Regions from separate parts of the Homo sapiens genome. Here all the other regions are linked to region 1. Evidence: fine-mapped expression QTL. A gene starts in region 1. Each other region holds a variant in brackets. All regions are shown on one strand. Distances are between the middles of the regions.

Region 1 (4,488 bases):
AGTTATTTTCTAAGAATGATAAAAATCTAAAAAGTTACAATATCATTAGACTAAAAATTTAAACCATTTATGTGACCAAAAAAGGGTAAAAATATAAATGTCTTTAGTTGTCTGTATTCTCCAGCAGATAGCATGCTCCAAAAGCACTGACCTTGTTGTACGTGAAAACCTAATGTTAGGTATACATATTTGTTGACTAAATATTAGATAGTCCTTGACACATGGTACTATAAAAGATTAATGCTTTTCAGAGTAATTTTCTGTGAAAAGGCAATAAAAATCTGTGTTTGGTCATTTTTTTTAAAGTGGCAAAGAAATGAACTTACTTACGCATACTAAAAACTATAGCACTGGGGCCAGGCATGGTGGCTCATGCCTATAATCCCAGCACTTTGGGAGGCTGAGGTAGGAGGATCACTTGAGGCCAGGAGTTTGAGACCAGCCTGGCCAACATGGCAAAACCCCGTCTCTACTAAAAATACAAAATTAGGCATGGTGGTGGGCACCTGTGATCCCAGGTACTACGGAAGCTCAGGCACGAGAATCACTTGAACCCGGGAGGCAGAGGTTGCAGTGAGCTGAGATTACATCACTGCCCTCCAGCCTGGTCAACAGAGCAAGACTGTGTCAAAAAAACCCCAAAAAACAAAAAAACTATATTGGCAACACTTTTTAAGCCTTAGATAACTATTCACCTATCCTCAATTTTGGAAAAAAAAAAGTATATTAAATACATAAAGATATTCTAGAACTCAGTTCAAGAGTTCAAATACACTATAACGAATATTTAAAATATTTAGTTTTCAATGCATTGTAGTTTAGTGCATAGAAGTTATTTACTTCTGAAAACTGATGACTGACATATGACAAACTATTTCTACTGCTTGTATAGCTACTGATTTTCTTGAGAATATTTGGAACTGTGTAGTCTGAATTTCTCCAAAGGATTGGAAAAAAAAGTCACAACCTTTACCCCTTTTCTGAAAACACATCTGATATCTCACTTTAGAGATTGGAATATTCAGTCTCCGTGGTTGAGAAGAGAAGTCACAAAGTCCACTGAACTCATAGCATCACCATATCAAAGTCACACTGATGGCACATTGGTGTCTACCTCTTTCATGCCAGCAGGCTACGAAAATGGCAATGAATTGCCATCCAAAGAAAACAGAAATGGTAGTGGAATTTGGTTAGCACTGGGCCCAAGGCTGATTGCATCTAAATTAGGCTCTAAGGCAGATAGCATCTGACTACTTTAACGTTCCAAACACCATCTTATCCATACATTAAGTGCAGCAAAAAATGCATGGGTGACATGAAATTTAAACAAAGTTCTAATTTCTTAATATATGGAAGCCAAATTTAACAAAATTCTACTTTCATGAAATTTCATAAGAATATCCTTGAATTTGGAATATTTAGACTTAATGATTCTATCACCAAAACTTAAGTAAACTAAAGATTTAAAAAAATTAAGCCAGTTATGACAGAATATGAGATCCTTTAGGGAACTTTTCTGTTTGAATTAACGACAACAACAAAAATTTAAGTAAAACTTTAAAAAGACCATCCAACTTCATCTGTCACGATGGTTCACAGAATACCCATAACACGATAAAGCCCTTAGAGTTAATTTAATTTAATTTTTTTTTGAGACGGAGTCTGGCTCTTTCACCTAGGCTGGAGTGCAGTGGTGCGATCTCAGCTCACTGCAACCTCCACCTCCGGGTTCAAGTGATTCTCCTACCTAAGCCTCCTGAGTAGCTGGGATTACAGGAGTGGGCCACAACGCCCAGCTAATTTTTGTATTTTTAGTAGAGATGGGGTTTCACAATGTTGGCCAGGCTGGTCTTGAACTCCTGACCTCAGGTGATCCATCCGCCTCAGCCTCCCAGAGTGCTGGGATTACAGGCTTGAGCCACCACGCCCAGCCCTTAATTTTAGACAACGCAGAAAAACTGGCTCCAGATACACTTGGGTGACTTGGTCAACATATGAATGTTAACCATGATGTGACAGATCAGACTTCAATTTCTTTAGACTGAACTAGAATGGCTCCGAAGACGAAAGTCAGGTCAGGACCAGGGAGAAAAACTGGGCAAATACGATTTTTTTTTTTCCATTTCCAACAGAGGTTTGAAGATTAGAACCAGGATTTGGGAAGCCTCAGTTCAGGAGTCCACCGAGGTGTGTGTGTGTTGACAGGTGGTGGTGATGCCGAGGGCGTGTTGACAAGTTTTCCCCGCCCTTGACCTTTAGCCTAGATATTAATTCTACCAACTGGGGCAACCCCAGAGGGAGGAAGCCAGGGTCCCCCAACAGGCTGACAGCGCGTGACCTTTGCCCTAGATAGCCTGAGAAAGCTGATGAGAGAAGGGGCGAGAGGTGCCTACAGCCCCCAGGACCGGCCTTGTCCCTTTTGCCCTAACTCCTCCACTTATCCCCACCGCCCGTTTCCTCTCACCCAGGCAGGACAGCTTGGCTAGCGGCACCAGCATGTTCAAAGTCACCAGGACTCTCGGTCGGACACAACAGGAGGACTGTCCGCTGCTCGCGGCGGGCGCTGGACCTCTAGGCCGCGGGGGGCGCCATCACCTGCCGGAAAGCAAGAACTCTGCTGCAGTTCGCCTCCCCGCTCTGCCGACCGCTCTTGCTTCACGGCGTTCCCACCTCCTTCTCGCTCTGCGCCGGCGCCATGGATGACGCAACGGCCAGCCGAGGCTTCCGGGTCATGTACCAAACCAGGGAAAGATAAGGGACTCCAAGTCCCAGCCGGGGAGCGGTGAAACAGCCACAGCGCGGCCAGAGGGGTCCGCGAATCCCACAGCACGACGCACGCGCAGTGAAAGGCAGTAGAAGGCGGGGCGACGCACACGGCTTCCTGGGAGGTGTAGTTTTCTCTACGAGTGCCCTTCGAGATCGATTGGAGGCTCGCGCAGGAGCCGTGAGTTGCCTAAGGTGAATTGACTCATATGATTGGCTGTCCCGAAAAATGAAACGTCTTTGTGGTCCGGGGCTGAGACCCACGAGGAGACTGGGCGGGATTTCTGGCGTTAGGAGGCGGGGCCTTTCGGCTTTGGGCGCGAGTGGTTAAAAGACAGTTGGTGTCGGTTCGGCTTCTCGGGTCGGATTCCGCGGTCCCAACCCTTCCCCATGGCCGACCCTGAGGAGTTGCAGGTTTCTTCGCCGCCCCCGCCGCCTCCCTCTTCTCCCTCCTCTTCAGACGCCTCTGCAGCATCTTCCCCGGGCGGCCCAGTGAGTTTGGGCTGGCCAGTTCCGAGCAGGAGCAGCGGCCCAACGGTGGACCAGCTGGAGGAAGTGGAGCTGCAGATCGGAGACGTGAGTGTGGTGTCGGGACCGCGTCCCCCCTCGGCGCCTCTGGGAAGACCGGCGGCGGCGGGGCTCGCGAGGCTAGGGAATCGGTCCCCCAACCCCCATGACCCGGGACGACCGGCCCTTCTGCGCCCCAGAGCGTGCGGGCGGGAAGCGGGGGGGATGCCAGCAGCTAAAGTGCCACCCCTCTCTGAGGGTTCCCCCTTTAGATTTAGTGGTGAGGAGTCTTAAGGGGTTTTCCTTCCACCCGCCCCACCCCTCACTGGTTTCTTTTTGTCTCGCCTTCTGGTTTCAATCATCCGCAGTAACCCGAAGCCACGCAGCTCTGCGCTGCCTGTTGCTGGCTCTCTGCCTCCTCCTTTCCCATCGGAGAATAGTTTTCATTGCATGGGTTTCGGAGAATAGTTTTCACTGCATGAGTTTGCTGGCTTTCTGTGGGTACTTGAGATCAGGCTGTGATTTCTTTCCATGGGACTTAGAGCCTGCTGTTCTAGTTGGCCACCTGCCCAGGGACAGCTGATAATGCCATTGTCTGCCCCAGGCCTGCTTAGCGCTGGACCCAGCTTGAAGGGTTTAGGTCACGTGGATTGGCTTCTTTGACGGTTTAGTTCAGGACTCCTCCCTTTGTATGATTGCTAGAATGCATACTTAGGATAGTTTCTGTTAAATCTCGAATCCCCAGAAACTAGCACCCCACCTCCCAACCGTAACTCACACACCACTGGAGGGGAGAAGACAGGGAAGGGGAGTTTTATGTTCTCTTGAGTGGGTCAAGTGGAATGAGGTATGTAGAGTGTAACCTGGGAGAGTTCTGTGGCCTGACCTTTCCTGCAGATTGGAAACTAGGGGATGAACTAGATTATCTCATTGCTCCGCAAGTATTTTTTTTTAAGGATGACTAGAGTGCTTAACCAGCTTTTATTTTTGCAGAACAAACTGATTGCAAGTAAATATGTAGAATGAAGTGCTAATGTGTTATTGAGGAACACTGTTTTATTTTATATCATTGGTGAAGAAAACGTTTGGCTGAAAAGTGAATTTTCCACCAGGAGCTGAGTGTTTTCTGCATTTGTGTGTGATTTTTTAATGTTATTTGTCAGAGCTCAGAGTTTCTGTTCTTTGATCTATACATTTTCATTGTTTAAAGTGTTCACA
Region 2 (4,488 bases), 47 kb before region 1:
ACGTGGCAAGTCCGCCCACCCAAAGACTGTTTAATTTTCTCCCGTTGGTTGCTTGGTGATTGGAAATTCTCAGTACCTCTTGAAGAAATTACTCAGGATTTAAAACTATTTGTATTTAATGATATCTCTTACATGGTGCTAATCTTTTGGCTACTATAATTGGTTATGATCCTTAGTGTAATGTTTCAAATCTGTTTATATACATACATGACAGTAGGTAGACTAAATTTGAATATTAGAATAAAATAAGATTCACTAATTCTAGTGAGTATATTCAAAGGAAATGAAGTTTGTATGTCAAAGAGGTATCTGCACTCCCATGTTCATTGCAGCATTATTCATGATAGCCAAGATAATGGAATCAAACTAGGTTTCCATCTACAGATGGATTTTTTTTAAAATTTGATATATGTGCACAGTGGAGTACTATTCACCCATAAAAAATAATGAAATCTTGTCACTTCTGACAACATGAATTAATATGGAGGACATTATGTTACATGAAATAAGCTGGGCACAGGAAGACAAGGCATGATCTCACTTACATGTGGTTTCTAAAAAGTTGACCTTGAAGTAGAGAATGGAATGGTGGATTTCAGGGGTTGGGTAGATGTTGATCACGAGAGACCTAATTTCAGTTAGAAAGGGGGAATAAATTTAAGAGATCTATTGTATAACATAATGACTATAGTTAGTAGCAATGTGTTGTGTTCTTGAAATTGCAAAAAAGAAAAATTACAGTAAAGGGGAACTTGGTAATTCATGATTGATCTGCTACCATAATTATACCAACCTTCTTTTTATCATTTGTCTATTTGGTTGTTTTGCATACTGACAAGATTTTCTTTTCTTTTAGTTGGTCGAATTGTCTTAGAATTGTTTGCAGATATCGTACCCAAAACTGCGGAAAATTTTCGTGCACTGTGTACAGGAGAAAAAGGCATTGGACACACGACTGGGAAACCTCTCCATTTCAAAGGATGCCCTTTTCATCGAAGTATGTGTAAATTTTCTTAATCTTGTTATTCTTCATACAGACAAGTCCTGTTCTTTAGGATTTGGGGAAGAAAACACTAAGTAGGAAGTGAAGCTTAAAAAGTACTATTAGCGTCCATGTCTGAGGCAGTAACGCAGTTTCGTAAAGGTTAGGCTGTGCGAGGTGGAATTACTTATGGTACTAAGGTTTATCTATAGAGAAATGGACTCCCCTAGCTTTACCCATCCTCTCATTCTCCTTCACTCTAAGATGATTTGATTGAGAAAGGAAGGCCGTAGTCAACCAACCTTAGGTAGCTTCATTGCCTGGTGACAAAAAAGTTATGCATAGACCGGGCGCAGTGGCTCACGCCTGTAATCCCAGCACTTTGGGAGGCTGAGGCGGGTGAATCACGAGATCAGGAGATCGAGACCATCTTGGCTAACGCGGTGAAACCCCGTCTCTACTAAAAATACAAAAAATAAGCCGGGTGTGATGGTGGGCGCCTGTAGTCCCAGCTACTCGGGAGGCTGAGGCAGTAGAATGGCATGAACTCAGAAGGTGGAGCTTGCAGTGAGCCGAGATCACGCCACTGCACTCCATCCTGGGCGACAGAGTGAGACTCTGCCTCAAACAAACAAACAAACAAACAAACAAACAAAAAAATGCATAATTTTTGGGCCTGAGTGCTTGGGAAGGCAGCAGATTTGAAGATTCAGTGTTTTGGGCACATGGGTGATAGTGTGGTCAAAATATGCCATTTCATACTGCTTATTACACTTTGTAATGAATCATACTTTTGTTTAGTGATAATGGTTCTCCCAATAGACTGCAGGCTCTATGAGTTCAAGAACTGTATGTTTTCACCATTTTGTTTTTGGCATCTAATACAGTTATTGAGTAAGAACTCAGTAAGTATTTGTTTAATAAATAGGCAAATAAGCAATAATCACAAGAGCAACATTTTTTAAACGATTTATTAAGAAAAAATTAACTTTTTAAAAA[AT/T]ATTTAAAATGTTTACTTTCATGTTTAATAAAAACTTGAAATATGCTAATAAACTATATGCAGAAAATATTTAACATAGCAAGTGTGAGACTGCTATCTTTAGAAAGGTCTGCCTGCAAGAGTAGCACTTGTTTGGAGTCTGGGAACTTGACACTTGTACCATTTCCTAAATAGTAATGGTGATTTACTATGCCTAGCCTATTTGTACAAACATGAATGTGTGCTCTCTTTTGGGGAGTCTGGAATTTTGGTACATGCTAGGTAGAGTGTGCCCAATAAATACCTTGGGTGCTGAGTCTCTAATTGGCTCTCCTGGGCAGAAATACTGTGTACATGTTGCTGCATTTTTGTTGCTGGGGGAAGTGTGTGTTCTGTAGCACTTCATGGGACGGAGAAAGCATAAGGAAGCCTGCACATGGATTTTTCCAGACTCTGCCTGTGTCTTTCCCGTCATCTCGCTGTGTATCCTTACCACTGTGATCCAACCACATACTGATTTGTGTGAGCTCTAGGGTTCTCTGAACATGAAAGCAATCTTGGTAACCTTTGACACAAAGTGATATATTTGCTGAAAATTTTCCATTAGGGTAGAACAAATCTACTGGGAATCATTGGTCTGTATTCAGCAGACATTATTGAGTAACTAATATGTACTATGTGTACATGCACATAGTTATAAGGATGTAAAACAATACAGTTGGTGTACTTAAGGAGATCATTGCTGGAAGGGGCAGATCATAATGCCATATGTTATGTAGGCAGAGTCAAGATACTATGGGAGAAAAATTAGGACATACAGCTTAGGGATTTCAGTGACAGTTTTATAGGGGAGGTATCATTTGAACCGATTTTCTGAATGTTAGCAGGGATCAGGCAGTGAAAATAGGTTGGATTCAGATGGTGAAAAGCCTGAAGCGTTTGGAGTTGCGGAGACGGGTGGGGAGCGACAAACAGGAGAGAGACATGACTAGAGTCATGCACTACAAAGTTGTCTTACGTACGTATCCATTAGTAAGCATTGCTAAAGGCATCCATGTCTCAGTCACTAATAGCCATTTTCCTTTTTTGTAGTTATTAAGAAATTTATGATTCAGGGTGGAGACTTCTCAAATCAGAATGGGACAGGTGGAGAAAGTATTTATGGTGAAAAATTTGAAGATGAAAATTTCCATTACAAGGTAAAGTAGAGAAAATGCATGTTATTGCTGATAAAAAGATTGTTATATATCTGGAATACTTGTTGGATTAAGACACCAAAAAATGTTTCAAGTGTGCTTAGATTCTCCATTTCTTGTAATAGGAATCACTTTTGTAAATAATGGTTCTTTAATATGGAAAAGTTTTCATTCAGTAATGATTAATTCAGCATTATTTCATTGTGATCCAGTTTTTATATGCTTCAGTTAAGCCAGTGAGTTTTTAAATGCGACCAGCATCTGGCAAAATTGTTTCCAGGAAAAATGTTTCCATTGTTGGAAGGATGGTAACTTGTGCATCCTTATCCTTGAATTTGAAGAGCAACAAAACCATCACTAATATCCAGGATGTCAGGGGATTTGCACACTAGCAGATATAGTTAAATGTCCAAGCTCCTAAAGGACTTCAGTGGTGCCTGTGCCTTCTTGTCTTCGTTGTCCCAAGATGTAATTGGGGTATATTGCATCATTCAAGTTATAAGAATGGACATGTAAGTACAAAAGTAAAGTGATATTTTTGGAAATAAGGAATATGAGCAAGGGTATTAGGATAATTTGAAAAAATGTCGTCAGTCTTCCAGTCAGTGTTTATTGAGCCACTATCACTGGCACCAAAGGGTTTATAAAAATGAAAGGCCTTGATGACAAGGAATTTATAATCCTACCTCAGAGACAAGATTAAGATACATGGGACTACTGGAGAATAATAGTATATAAATAAATGCTAAATTGATTGAATATCCTTGCTTGTATAACATTGCTAATACTGTCTATATACTGCAGGAGAAAGATGTGATTTATGCAGTCTGAATTATTATGGAAGTCATTGAGGAGGAATGGCTACTTGGGCTGTGCAGACTGGGTCTTGCAAGGCGGCAACATGTCTGAGATTTGGTTAGGCAGGAACTGTAGTATTGATGCAGAATTTAAAAAGGGACGTCGGTGAGGAAAGACAAAGGCAAGAGACGTTGAGGAAATAAAGTTCTAGTTACTGTTGTACCAAAGGAAGCTACCAGAAGGATGAAAACTAAAGGTGATGTGATGATCACATTGACATAGAGAAAAGGGGCCTATAGACAAGACACATGATTCTTGCTTTCTATAAACGTGGTGGCCTTAAAATCTGAATTTGATTTAGACTGAGGGGAGTAAAAGGCATTTTGGTGGGGTGGGGGGTGTCATGAAACATTATATAACATGAGAGTTACGGTGCATGCACCAACAAGGAATACATTTAGAAAGCCTAGGAGATAAAGTGAAAAGGTTAAGAAATTGGGTTTCATAGATCCTTTGACAGGATTATGCCAAGG
Region 3 (4,488 bases), 65 kb after region 1:
GACCTCGTGATCCTTCCACCTCAGCCTCCCAAAGTGCTGGGACTAATGATTATTTAACTAGAAATATGTGGCATCTTTAACACTCAACAACACTCCAGCACTATAGAAAAGCTATGAAAAGAGAGGGAGGACACTTTTAAGTTTACTCTCCAGTTCTGTACTGCCTTTCAAGAGCTTCCTCCACATTCACTGAACATTAAACCAAACAGATAGTGTTTAGTAAATTTTGCAAAGATATATGGAAAGAAGACAGTCAGGAGCCTGAAGAGTGAGTCCAATATTGATTCTGGGTACTTTGCTAAGACATAAAAGAGCAGAGATGGGGTAGAAGGGGAGAGGACATGGCTAAAGTGGTTACTGTTAAGGCTTCGAGTCTCCTGCAGTCTTCTTCCATTTTGCTAGTAAATTACTAGGTGCTCTTCTCGACTCAATCCCAAACTCTGATACCACAAGCCAAAAATCTGACTGGAATGGGTTTCTTGCGTTAGGATACAGAACAGTATAGGTGGAAAACAAGGGGACATAAATGGAAATACAGGGAGTTATGTATTCATGTGATTTTTGGTTATACTTCTTTCCAGTTACTTCTAGAATGCTGCATGGCAGAACTCAATAAAACGGAACATTGAGAAAGCCTTTTTTTTTAAAAGAAGCACAATGAGATACCATTCACACCCATTAGGATAGTTATTGTCAAAACAAACAAATGAAACGAGAACACAAACGTTGGTGAGGATGTGGAGAAATCGGAACTCTTGTGCAACACTAGTTGGAAAGTAAAATGGTACAGTTGCTGTGGAAAATAGTATGGCAGTCCCTTAAAAAATCAAAATCAAATCAAATGACAGTCCCTCAAAAATCAAAGAATTACCATCTGATTTAGCAATTCCAATTCTTGGTATATACCCAGAAGAAGTGAAAGTGAAAGTGGGGACCCAAACAGATATTTGTATCCCTGTGTTGATGGCAACATTATTCACAACAGCCAAAAGGTGGAAACAACCCAAATGTCCACTGACAGATAAACAGTTAAACAAAATGTGGTACATAAATACAATGGACTATTATTCAGCCCTAAAAAAGGAAATTCTGACACATGCTACAACACGTGAACATTAAAGACATTGTGCTAAGTGAAATAAACCAGACACAAAAAACTACATATTTTATGATTCTCCTTATATGAGGTACTTAAAGTAGCCAATTAATAAATACAGAAAGTAGAATGATGGTTGCCAGGGGCTGGGGAGAGGGGGAAATTGGGAGAGACAGATATGAGGAATTATTATTCAACAAATATGGAGTTTCAGTTGGGGAAGATGAAAAAGTTTTGGAGGTGGATGGTGATGATGGTTCCATAACAATGTCAATGTACTTAATGCCACTGAATGGTTTACTTAAAAACAGTTAAATGGTGAATTTTAGCTTATGTATATTTTACCACAAAAAGCTTTATTTCTTTAACCTTACAGTATTTCATGCATTTGTAAAAGTGGGATTAGTGAAGAAAGAGTAATTGAATAACTGGGGAAGTCTTTGGGTTTTTTCTTCTTCATCACAAATATCATCATCAGGCTTTTTTTTTTTCTTTGTCAGAGACAGGGTCTTGGTCTATGGCTCATGCTGGATGCTGGAGCTATTCGGGAGGCTGAGGCAGAGAATTGCTTGAACCTGGAAGGCGGAGGCTGCAGTGAGCTGAGATTGCGCCACTGCACTGCAGTCTGGGTGACAGAGAGACTCTGTCTCAAAAAAAAAAAAAAAAAAAAAAAAAAAAGAAAGGAATACAAATTGCTCAAGATCACACACCTAGTAAGTAAGGCAATCAGGACTTGGACTGAAGCCTGTCTAACTCACAATCCTATGCTCTTAGCCACGGTGCTCTACTGCCCCTTCAGCATCACTTGCATGGCTCCTTGGTACTGTCATGGACAGGGAGGCTGGTCTGGATTGGAATAGTCTAGGCTGTCAGACTACCATGGAATGGGCAAATTAATTCACACTGGTACTTACAGTTTAGTAAGGCTATTCAGTCCTCTGAAAGCATAGATGGAGATGGATGTAATCTTATTGTTTTGCAGGTACCTGTGAAAATGATTATTAAAAAGAAAAAAAAATGAAGCAGAGTTTCACTTTTGCAAGACAAAAAGAATTCTGTGGATGGATGATGGTGATGGTAGCATAGCAATATGAATGTGCTTAATGCCTCTGAAGGTAGACTTAAAAATGGTTAAGATGCCACATTTTATGTTATGTGTATTTGATGACGATTAAACATTTTAAAAATTGAAAAAGGTAAACATTACAAAATAATTTAGTGAAGCCAGATATCATGTCACTTCATGTTTCTGTTAAATTTATGTACAATTAGGCTGGTTTGTATTTAGAAATTCTAGTTATAAAGATGAATGAATAACAGCCAAAGCTTACTATTTGAATTTTCTAGAAATAAAATGTTAACACATAGTAAAGCCCTCATAAATCAGAAGTCTAGAAGCCAGACTTTTAATACGGGTCTTGTTATAATTCTTTAAACTTGTTAAGTGCTCAACACAGTGCTAGCCAACCTAAAAGTGTATGATGTTTTTAATGTCCCAAACCATATTCTATGTTAATCACAAATCTGTCAACCAAATCAATTTTGATCTCATTAATTTGACATCCAAACCTTGTTCCAAAGACTGTTTGGAGGAAATTTATAAGGAGTAAAAGTGGCAAAAGAAAAAAAACATAAAAATAATCAG[G/C]ACTAGAAGAATATAAATTAGATTGGAATGTCAAGACAAGAATGCAGGCTTACATAGTTAACTAAAGTAATACTGAAAATACGACCTTGAGTTAACTGGAGGTCAAAGGAAATGGGTACCAGAGTATACGCTATTGCATCATTGCACCCACACAAAGTTTTGCACTTCTATGTGTACTTGCCCCAGATTGCGGGAATGATAAAGTAAGGATTTCAAGGCTGCCTTCATGTTCTGAGTGCAGGTCACCATTGTTCTTTAGAGTGTCCTGAAAGTTTATATGCAATTTGTTATAACTTTTAGGAGCAATAAGAAAGAAATCAATATGAGCGAACATTCAGTTAAATTATAAATTTTGACTGAAAAGTACCCTATTTCTCCAACATGCAAGAAAACCTAACTTTGATTGTGAAATGTTATTATAAAATTTATTATAGGCTGGGTGAAGTGGGTTATGCCCATAATTGCAGAGCTTTGGGAGGCCAAGGCAGGAGGATCATTTGAAACAGACCAGCCAGGCAGGGCAACATAGTGAGATCCTATCTCTCTAAAAAAAAAAAAAAAAGGAGCCAGGTGTGGTGGCACATGCCTGTAGTCCTAGCTACCTGGGAGTCTGAGGTGGGAGGATCACTTAAGTCCAGGAGTTTGAGGGTGCAATGAACTATGATCATACTACTGCACTCCAGCATGAGTGACAGAGTGAGACCCTGTCTCTTAAAAAAAAATTATTATGCACCTGAACCGGACATGCTGTGGGCCCAATCATGTAGTAGGTAATGAATGGTTCTCATTTATCATGCATTTGTTTGTTTATTTCTAGTGTTATAATGATCTACTAAGGAATAGGCTGCATTGCCTGGAGGTCTAAAGGTATAGACTTTTAATAACCAATTAGAAATTTTTAAATAATTAGGCTATTTTGATCATTTTGTTATATGGAACAAATTGGTCATTCAGGAATTAATTCATCCACATTAGTATGGTGGTTAGTTCAAAAAAGAGAATTAATTCAATGTTTATTGTGCAAAAATGCTAAGCCACTGCATTATATAAACCTGAATTTTGATATTTAGATTTGTAGTCTAGCTCCTTTAAATAAGTGGACACAAGGTGATGCTACAGAAAAATTCTTCAGTCTCCAGAAATCAGAAAATAGAATAAGTCAGTGTACTCTTGAAGTTTTGTCAGGCCTAATTGTGAAAAGTTCTTCTCTTTTGACTGATAAATGTTCAGAATGAAATTTTGAAAAGTTATTTTCATTAGAATTTCTATTTTCAAATATGAAATAGATACTTCTGCAGACTATCTGGGTTTTTAGAACATTTCACTGAAGGAAGTGGGTTAATTCTTCTTCTGATTCCACTCAATTTCCATCTGTTATCTTTAAAAATGTACAGATATATATTAATTTATCAGGTTTCCCTATTGTAAAACCAAAATAAGAACCAATCTATATTGGTATAAAAATGAAACAATGAATCCTGAGATATTTCTTAGTTAGTGTGATTTAGGTACAGACTATCTAAACCCAGCAATTCACCATATGACAACATAATTTAGTCACAAAGTAGACCTAAATAACAGGTAAACATCCCGTGGGCCAGTATGGATTTTGAGAGTTCTGAAGGGAAGCTAGCATGTCAGATACTACTCAAGGCCAAAATAAAACGCAACTCACAAGGCAGATGTGAAAATGGAATCAAGTCTCCAAGACAACATGCTCAGAGGTTTCAACCCACAGTGACTTGCT
Region 4 (4,488 bases), 37 kb before region 1:
CATGCTGGAGTGCAGTGATGCAATCAAAGCTCACTGCAGCCTCAACCTCCTGGGCTCGGGTGATCCTCCTACCTCAGCCTCCTAAGTAGCTGGGACTACAGGCCCTTGCCACCATACCCAGCTGATTTTTAAATTTTTTGTAGAGATGGGTTTTTGACATGTTGCCCAGGCTGGTCTCTTAACTCCTGGGCTCAAGCTGTCCACCCGCCTTGGCCTCACAAAGTGCTGGTATTATAGTTAAGAGCCTCTCTGCCCAGCCTCGATCTCTTTTTGACCTGTGAGGCAGGTAAAATCTGAGTATTGGCCATTAAAAGATGTTACATAAACAAAAGATAATTTTAAAATGTTTGTTCTAGGGGAGAGACCTGATGCATAAAGTCTCTTAGGTTAAAAGACCTGTTGTAGGTAAGAACCTAGGTTGGGTATGGTGGTTCATGCCTGTAATTCCAGCACTTAGGGAGGCCACGGCGGCGGGCAGATCGCTTAATTCCAGGAGTTTGAAACCAGCCTGGGCAACATGGTGAAACCCTGTCTCTAAAAAAAAAAAAAAATTAGTCTGGTGTGGTGGCACATACCTGTAGTCCCAGCTACTTGGAGGCTGAGGTGGGAGGAGCACTTGAGCCTGGGGGGTTGAGGCAGCAGTGAGCTGTGATCAGGCCACTGCACTCCAGCCTGGGCCACAGAGTGAGACCTTGTCTTAAAAAAACAAAAAACAAAAACTTAAGAGTTTATAACTTAAGAGTTATTAAGTTATTAATGTTCCTAAAAAACTTATAATTCAAGTAAAAAGTGTATACAAATGTTTCTTCAAAATGATTTTATCTTAAAAGTGTTAGTTCAGGCCCATTCGGGAGATTGAAACCACAGTGGGGAGCATATTGGAAACTAGAGAAATGTCTTTCTCCTCCATGTCCATTCAGTGCCCTCTGCTGACAAAACTTAGTGCCCACTGGCAGAGGAGAGCTATTTGCATGTTTCAGCTCCATTTTCACAGAGCAGTGAAGGATGGGTTTGGAGTTGATAGGCAATGAATTGAAATCTGGCATATAAGCTTAATACTTTGATATAAATACTAGCTTTATACTTTTTTGTAGGCTCTTGAACTAGACCCATCAAATACCAAAGCATTGTACCGCAGAGCTCAAGGATGGCAAGGATTAAAAGAATATGATCAAGCATTGGTAAATTTTGTTCCAAATGTTTAATTTTTTAAAATAGACAACTACCTTTATAAATCATACACCTAACTTAAATGTTTTTTTCCAATTAAAGGCTGATCTTAAGAAAGCTCAGGGGATAGCACCAGAAGATAAAGGTAAGTTGGCAGCTTTTGTAGTGAAAGTTAATTTTGTTATTTAAATACTTATCCTCAGGAACCATTGTTCACTTTGCCAGATTTTAGATGTTTGTTCAACAGACACTACAGAATGCCTGCTGTTGGGCCAGGCATTATCATATAGCAATGAACAAGACAGTCAAAGTCCCTGCCCTCAAAGAGCTTACATTCTACTCCCATTCAAGAATATAGTAGTTTTTCACGTTATTTATTCTTCAAGTTATCATCTCTGTAGTTTTTTATATGTCTAAATACTGTTTGTCTTATGGTATCCTTTGAGACTGTGTTCCTATTCTGGTTAGTCTAGTCGAGAGCTCAGCATTGTAAGACACAGTATTCATGGTAAATTTAACATTTGGGACCATTCAAGTTGAATGTGGCTATAACCTTAGTATTGATGTACTGGTTATATGTTTTAGGAAACTATGACAAAAATAAGCTTGTTTTTCAAATAAACCAACTATGAATAGTGACACTAGATCTGGGTATTACAAAATGTCTTTGGTCTCTTATTACTAAAATGAAACAAGGGAAGCAATTACTGTTCTCTAATGTAGAGGCAGAAGGCAAATCTTGATGTACTTGAGTTCTCTCAGTTGACATCCTCTAAAATTACGTTTCATTTCTGTGTTTGTGTGATTGCTCAGATTTTCTGTTACTAGGGCTTAGTTACTTTGTAGAGAAGTTTTTTCAAGGGGTAGTTAACATTAAAATAGTTTGTTAGTCACCATAATTTTTTGGATATTTTGAGAAATAACTCACATTGCATATTTATTTTACAGCTATCCAGGCAGAATTGCTGAAAGTCAAACAAAAGATAAAGGCACAGAAAGATAAAGAGAAGGCAGTATATGCAAAAATGTTTGCTTAGAAAGGATTCAGTTTTGCTTATTGTGTGTTGATTGTATAAATGCAATAAGAAAATGTAAAGGTTTTTGTCT[A/G]TGAATATGATCCCTAATGTGTTTCTTTTGACACCTTAGTTCCTTACTGTTTACAGTTTAGGAGTACTGATAGGGGTTCATGCTTAATAAACATGTCACAATACAGTAAGTAAAGTGGTTTTGTTTGTTTCTTTGAGATGGAGTCTTGCTCTGTCACCCAGGCTGGAGTGCGGTGGCGCAATCTCGGCTCACTGCATCCTCTGCCTCCCGGGTTCAAGCAATTCTCCTGCCTCAGCTTCCCAAGTAGCTGGGATTACAGGCACGTGCCACCACGCCCAGCTAATTTTTGTATTTTTAGTAGAGATGGGGTTTCACCATATTGGTCACGTCACGTTGGTCTTGAACTCCTGACCTTGTGATCCACCCCGCCTTGGCCTCCCAAAGTGCTGGGATTACAGGTGTGAGCCACCGTGCCCGGCCAAGTAAAATGTTTTTTAAAATGGTTATGTGCATTATTCATAAAAAATAATGGTGTCCAGTCTTTTTAAACTTGTAAAGACACATCTTATTGAATAAAGAGATGAGAGCTTAAGTTTGTATATTGTTTCCTTCGATTCTTTGATGTATCCATGGTGGATGATGCTAGGTTTTCATACTTATAGATAATACACACACACACACACACACACACACACACACACACACAAACTTGTTCAGGGATGGGCATACTTCTTCTGCAAGGGCCAGATCATAAAGTTTTTAGGCTTTGTAGACCATGTAATGTCACACCCACTCACCTGCACAGTTGTAATTCAAAATTAGCCATAGACAATGTGTAACCAATGGGTATGGCTGTGTTTCAATAAAACTTTAGTCTAGAATATATATTCATTTTTATATTTGATTACTTAACTTTGGCAAGTCAAATGTAAAGTCCAGTAGTGAATTTTGCTCTTGGTACTGAATCTCTGAAGAACTGAAGAGGTAGGAAGATGCTGCATTCTTATAAAGGTTATTTAAAAGCAATACCCGTAATTTCTTTATGGGACAATCTTACATATAGTATAAAATTTTTATTTGATAATCATTTTGTGACTATTCTGTTCAGTAATATGCAGAAAGACATTCTGAAATCTGTTAATCTCTAAACATTTTAACGTTAGCTTGCCATACTTGAAAGAAACTGGCTAGCTGCAGTTTACATTCCATTGTAAGCAGGTCCTCCTCCACCTTCAGGTACCACCCAGTTAATATTCTGACTTGGATCTTTAATATCACATGTTTTACAATGTACACAGTTCTGAGCATTTATCTGTAACCGAAATCCATCACCTTGTTCCACAGGTACAAATTCATAAACTCCTGAAAAGTAAAAATAAATAATATTGAAGTGCCTAACTTTAAAAAATTTTTAAATTCAAAAGTAAAAATTAAGGAAAGAGTAGCCACAGAAACCTTAAAGGTTGCTTTCTGAATGCTTACCCATAGAGATTATGAAGACCTTGGTGCATTGCTATTGATGTGAGTGTAAATTACATGTACATAATAAAAGGAGGTACAGCGGTATTCAGCTGAGTTGTCTCACTATCAAGGGTACTCGACACTGAGTGTTTGAGTTCCACACAACCTCGAAGTCCTCCCTTATTCACAGTCATCCTCTCATTCACAGGGGACAAGTTCCAAGATCCCCAGTAGACGCCTGAAACCTCAGGTAGTACTCAACTTACATTGTCAGTCAGAACACGTTTCTGTTCATGTATTTCACCCACAAATGTGATGCCTTTTCCATCTTAAGGAAGCACTTGCCACACTCTGGCCATAACTTCTACAGTTCGAGGTCCAACAGCAAAACGCACAAATTTCTTTTTCCTCTTTCACAGAAGATACAGTCTTACCATAGACCTTAGCAACCTCAGCATAGGATTTTTTTCTCTTTATAGAGAACTTTCTCCTTTCACTTAAAGGAAGCACTTTATGGCATCTCTGAATTGTCAGCATCACTACTCTTGCGTTGTGGGGATATTTCTAAAGGGTTACTGGACACAAGTATGATAATGTGACAGTAAATCTGATAACTTAGATGGCTACCAAGTAACATAACGAATGTTAGGTGTGAATATGCTGGACAAAGGGATAATTCACATTCAGGGTGGGGCAAGCCCGAATGGTACACAATTTAAAACTTAACGTGCACAATTTAAGACTCAAGAATTATTTGTTTCTGGAATTTTCTTATTTTCAGACCGTGGGTGACTGGGGGTAAGAGGAGCC
Region 5 (4,488 bases), 33 kb after region 1:
GCAAGTTATTTGCTAGGAAATTTTCTACTAAATATGCAAATTGAACTTCAAATTAGATCTATTTGTCTATAAAGCCATGTGTTCTGCCAAAAAATATAAACGATCTTTAGTGTATAAAGAGCTATAATAAGAAAAGATAAAAACCTGATGATTACAATTTGTCCTGTCAAGCTCAAGGTCAATTGCTGATATTTCCCCATTCGGTTATATCCATTTATTCTGTAAACCATGAAGGACAGGAGAGCAGAACATGAGGAAAGAAGGAGTGTTGATTGGTATTTTACTATGTGTCTTAGGCTGAAGTTTTGCTTTTATCAACAGAATTATAGTAACTCTGTTTGCCGCTTTGGCTGCCCAGCACTCAATCACTCTTCTGATAATAGTGTTCTGATTTCCTTTGAGAGAATTACTTCTCCCTTTTTGAGAAGTTATGGTGGGACCTTCAGTGGAGGCAATCCCTAGCCCAGAGTAGGTAAGTACCCTAGACGTGATCAACTAGATTCTCTTCCCTGAAACTGAATCTGATTGAATGACACTTGGATGGATAATTCCAGAGGCTATAAATTATTCCTCAGATTCTGTGTTATACCATTTTCTTCCAATAAATTCTGTTCTGTTTAATTTAGTCAGATTGCTTTATGTTGCATACAAGAAAGGAATCTTTTATAAGCCATCTTTCTGAGGAACTATGGAAAACAAAAACAGGGTTCTGTGTTAGACTTAAAATACAAGCAAGATTACAGAGTTGATGGTAGCTGACAGTATCTAAATTATTGAAAATTAATTTCCATGGCATGGATCATTCTAATAACTGCTATGAAATTGCATTCAATTAAAAAAGTGCTTCTAAAGCATGTAATCACAGGTACAACTAGACATACTCTTTGAATAAAAGATGTTTCAAAGTTTACCATTTCATCCATGCACGCTTGCTTGAATCATGCCTTGATATATGGGGATATTTTCATTGAGAAAGACTTCTTCTTAACTACCTTCATTTGCAGCATTGATTTATTTATAATTATTTTATATTGCCTATATAAATTCCTTCCTCTTCATCTGGTAGCACTTGTACCATGTGATATAGTTTGGATATTTGTCTACTCCAAATCTCATGTCAAAAGTTGATTCCCAATGTTGGAGGTGGGGCCCAGTAGGAGGTGTTTGGGTCATGGGGTAGATCCCTCATGAATGGTGTGGTGTCCTTCCTGCAGTAATAAGTGAGTTCTCCTTCTATTATTTCACATGAAATCTGATTGTTAAAAAGAGCTGGCACCTCCTCTTCTCTCTCTGGCTTTCTCTCTCGCCATTTGACACACCTACTCCCTCTTTGTCCTCTGCCATGATTAAAAGCTTTCCTGACGACCTCACCAAAATTAGAGGTTGGTACCATGCTTCTCTTACAACTTACAGAACTGTGAGCCAAAATAAACTCTTCCTTATAAACTACCGAGCCTCCGATATTCCTTTGTAGTAATGCAAAATGGACTAACACACCCTATACACCAATTACTAGCTCATTAGGCAAACATCAATATCTGTGAACAGTTATTAGAGCTGAGGAGAACTTCTTACAAGACCAAGTGGATTCCCCTCACATCATGTTTCCTGAGATTCAAAAAATCTCCTATGAGATTCTACCAGACTGTGGAAAACTAAAATCATCTCACCCAATATCAAAGGTTTAAGAGTTTTAATTATTGTTTAGACATGTCTCAGTCCACTTGGCTGCTGTAACAAAAATACCATAGACTGAGTGACTTAGACGACAAATGTTCATTTCTCACAGTTCTGGAGGCTGGGAAGACCAAGATCAAGGTGCCAGCAGATTCAGTGTCTGGTAGGGGACCACATGTTTCATAGATGGCCATCTTCTCTGTCTGTCTTCACAAGGTGGAGGGGCAAGGGTCGTCTCCAGAGTCTCTTTTCTTTTCTTTTTTTTTCTTTTTGAGATGGAGTCTCACTCTGTCGCCCAGGCTGGAGTGCAGTGGCACCATCTTGGCTCACTGCAACCTCCACCTCCAGGGTTCAAGCGATTCTCCTGCCTCAGCCTCCTGAGTAGCTGGAATCACCACCA[C/T]GACTGGCTAATTTTTGTATTTTTAGTAGAGACGAGGTTTCACCATGTTGGCCAGGCTGGTCTTGAACTCTTGACCTCAGGTGATCCACCCACCTCGGCCGCCCAAAGTGCTGGGATTACAGGCATGAGCCACTGGCCTGGACCAGAGTCTGTTTTCTAAGGGCACTAATCCCACTCATGAGGGCTCTGTCCTCATGACCTAGTCACCTCCCAAAGGCCCTACCTCCTTGTACCATTGCATTGGGGTTAGTATTTCAATATATACATTTTGGAGGAACACAAACTTTCAGTTTATAGCTGGCAAATTAGTAGAAAATATTAATAGATTGGATGCATTATCATAATACACATGGAAACAAATATTAACATCACAGTGAAAAACAATAAAATATCTACTTACATGTGAGAGAGATTCATAAGAGGTCTAAACATCCTTTGTTGGATATTTGAAATTTCAATCCCTTCTAGGCTGCTAAAAATATCAAATTAATAATCAATCAAAGGAACATGTATTATACATGGTTTAATAAATTGAGTTTCTGTGAAGGACAATTTAATAAAATGCTTTTAGTTAACACTTACTCTGAACAAAATAATTATACTCAACCCACCCACTTCCCCAAATCCTCCTCCTTCTGATTGTGTTATTTATACACGTATTATCTTCCTTATTTGATTTTTTTCAGATCCTCACAGATCATGGCACAATGCTTTGTGCATTTTAACTAATCAATAAATATGTGTGGAATAAATGCACAAGCATTATCTTTTGTACAATATTACAATAGCAGAGGATGCTTTACATCCTTGAAAATTTCCTAGTAATTTTTAATTAATAAATTTTTTTCTAATAAAATGTCATTTTACTGAGGGAACACTCAAATTAAATGAACTGAAGCTTACCTTTTTTTTTTTTTTTTGAGACAGGGTCTTCCTCTGTTGCCCAGGCTGGTGTGGTGGTATGAACAGGGCTTACTGCAGCCTCAACCTCCCAACTCAAGCAATGTTCCCACCTCAGCCTCCCAAGTAGCTAGGACCACAGGTGCATGCCACCACACTCAACTAATTTGCTTATTTTTATTTTTTTGTAGAGGCAGCATCTCCCTATGTTGCCCAGGTTGTTCTTCAACTCCTGATCTCAAGCAATCCTCCTGCTTCGGACTCCCAAAGTGCTGAGTTTACAGGTGTGAACCACTGCACTCAGCCCTGAAGCTTATCTTTTAAGGCAATTCTTTGGCTCTAACAGAATTTTTGTCTTTTTGTGTGTGTGTGGTACAAGTAAGGATTTATATAATCTAGCATATTCCATCTTGGGGTAAAAACACTTATAATAAATTATAAAATACCCAGTGTTAAGAGAGTGAATATGCACAGATGTCTTTGAAGGGTCAAAGCAAACAAATCAACATAAGCTCCTAATGACTTATAGAAAAATATAAAATAATTCATCATTATTTTTTAATTTACAAGTATATAAGATAAAACTAATAGTTGTCTGTTTATAGTTCAGCAAGCACCCATATGTTTTTGTGGAGCTAAACTAATGTCTTGGAAATAAAGCTTATGATTTGAAGTAAATATATAAAAATATACATTGTTAGTATTTAAAAAACAATTTTATCATAAAACTATCCCCATATGTGAATACTTACAGAGACTTGAGTTTGACAAGATAATCAAATTGGTTTGCTTGAATTTTCTGGATTGGATTATAGGAAAGATTCCTGTTTTTTAAAAAAAGCAGCAATAGGTCATTTCTAAAAACTACATGAGTAAAGCGAGTGAATCTGTTTATTTTGGGTTACTTTAACATATTTATGAACGAAAGTATACAATAACTCGTAATGGATGAAAGACTTAAACTGTAAAATTATAAAACGACTAGAAGAAAACATAGGTGGAAAGCCCCAGGACATTAACCTGGGTGATGATTTTTTTGGATATTGCCCCAAAAATATAGGCAACAAAAGTGAAATAGATGAATGGGATTACATAAAACTAAAAAGCCTCTGCACAGCTAAGGAAACAATCAACAGAGTGAGGAGACAACCTGTGTAATGGGGGACAATATTTGCAAATCATATATCTGGTAAGTGGTTAATACCCAAAATGTGTAAGGAACTCAAACAACTCAGCAAGAAAACAAATAAGCTGGTTAAAAATTAGGGAAAGGGCTTGAATAGACATTTTTCAAAAGAAGACATATAAATGACTAACAGGTATATGAAAAAGTGCTCAACATCACTAATCATCAGAGAAATGCAAACTGAAACCACAATATTACCTCACACCTTTTAGAATAATTTTTATCAAAAAGATGAAAGATAAGGGTTGAGGATGATTTGAAGAAAAGGTTGCCCCTTGCATACTGGTGATGGGAATATAAATTAGTACAACCATTATGGAAAATA

Which allele goes with the higher level. Positions count from the first base shown, and alleles are read on the strand shown. Sizes are in standard deviations (SD) of each study's normalised expression. Not every link is listed here.
As copies of T replace C in region 5, the expression in unexposed skin of the gene that starts at base 2,659 in region 1 goes up (small effect, 0.38 SD a copy in GTEx).

What was found. PIP is the estimated chance that this variant, and not a neighbour inherited with it, causes the effect.
Region 2: its variant is the best candidate, but not a certain one, in a credible set for the expression of ETFDH in spleen (GTEx, PIP 0.72).
Region 3: its variant is the best candidate, but not a certain one, in a credible set for the expression of ETFDH in whole blood (INTERVAL, PIP 0.62).
Region 4: its variant is the best candidate, but not a certain one, in a credible set for the expression of ETFDH in tibial nerve (GTEx, PIP 0.76).
Region 5: its variant is the best candidate, but not a certain one, in a credible set for the expression of ETFDH in unexposed skin (GTEx, PIP 0.82).

The regions. Positions count from the first base shown.
Region 1 is chr4:158,670,467-158,674,954 of GRCh38, reverse strand. It overlaps ETFDH (electron transfer flavoprotein dehydrogenase), which reads right to left and starts at 2,659. Exons shown (of 13, transcript NM_004453.4): 1 at 2,465-2,659. The coding sequence starts at 2,498. It overlaps C4orf46 (chromosome 4 open reading frame 46), which reads left to right and starts at 3,068. Exons shown (of 2, transcript NM_001008393.4): 1 at 3,068-3,339. The coding sequence starts at 3,154. RefSeq lists enhancers at 2,311-2,812, 2,414-2,973, 2,816-3,452, 3,453-4,089 and a silencer at 3,394-3,463.
Region 2 is chr4:158,717,852-158,722,339 of GRCh38, reverse strand. It overlaps PPID (peptidylprolyl isomerase D), which reads left to right. Exons shown (of 10, transcript NM_005038.3): 2 at 857-997; 3 at 3,054-3,160. Among named protein-coding and RNA genes, the nearest start is that of PPID, 3.3 kb to the left of the region's middle. The variant AT/T (reference allele first, on the strand shown) is at 1,982.
Region 3 is chr4:158,605,566-158,610,053 of GRCh38, reverse strand. RXFP1 (relaxin family peptide receptor 1) reads right to left here. Exons shown (of 18, transcript NM_021634.4): 6 at 2,011-2,082. Among named protein-coding and RNA genes, the nearest start is that of RXFP1-AS1, 43 kb to the right of the region's middle. The variant G/C (reference allele first, on the strand shown) is at 2,742.
Region 4 is chr4:158,707,455-158,711,942 of GRCh38, reverse strand. It overlaps ETFDH (electron transfer flavoprotein dehydrogenase), which reads right to left. Exons shown (of 13, transcript NM_004453.4): 13 at 2,320-3,579. The coding sequence ends at 3,416. It overlaps PPID (peptidylprolyl isomerase D), which reads left to right. Exons shown (of 10, transcript NM_005038.3): 8 at 1,095-1,181; 9 at 1,273-1,315; 10 at 2,119-2,816. The coding sequence ends at 2,207. Among named protein-coding and RNA genes, the nearest start is that of PPID, 14 kb to the left of the region's middle. The variant A/G (reference allele first, on the strand shown) is at 2,278.
Region 5 is chr4:158,637,321-158,641,808 of GRCh38, reverse strand. RXFP1 (relaxin family peptide receptor 1) reads right to left here. Exons shown (of 18, transcript NM_021634.4): 13 at 3,730-3,801; 14 at 2,478-2,549. Among named protein-coding and RNA genes, the nearest start is that of C4orf46, 32 kb to the left of the region's middle. The variant C/T (reference allele first, on the strand shown) is at 2,078.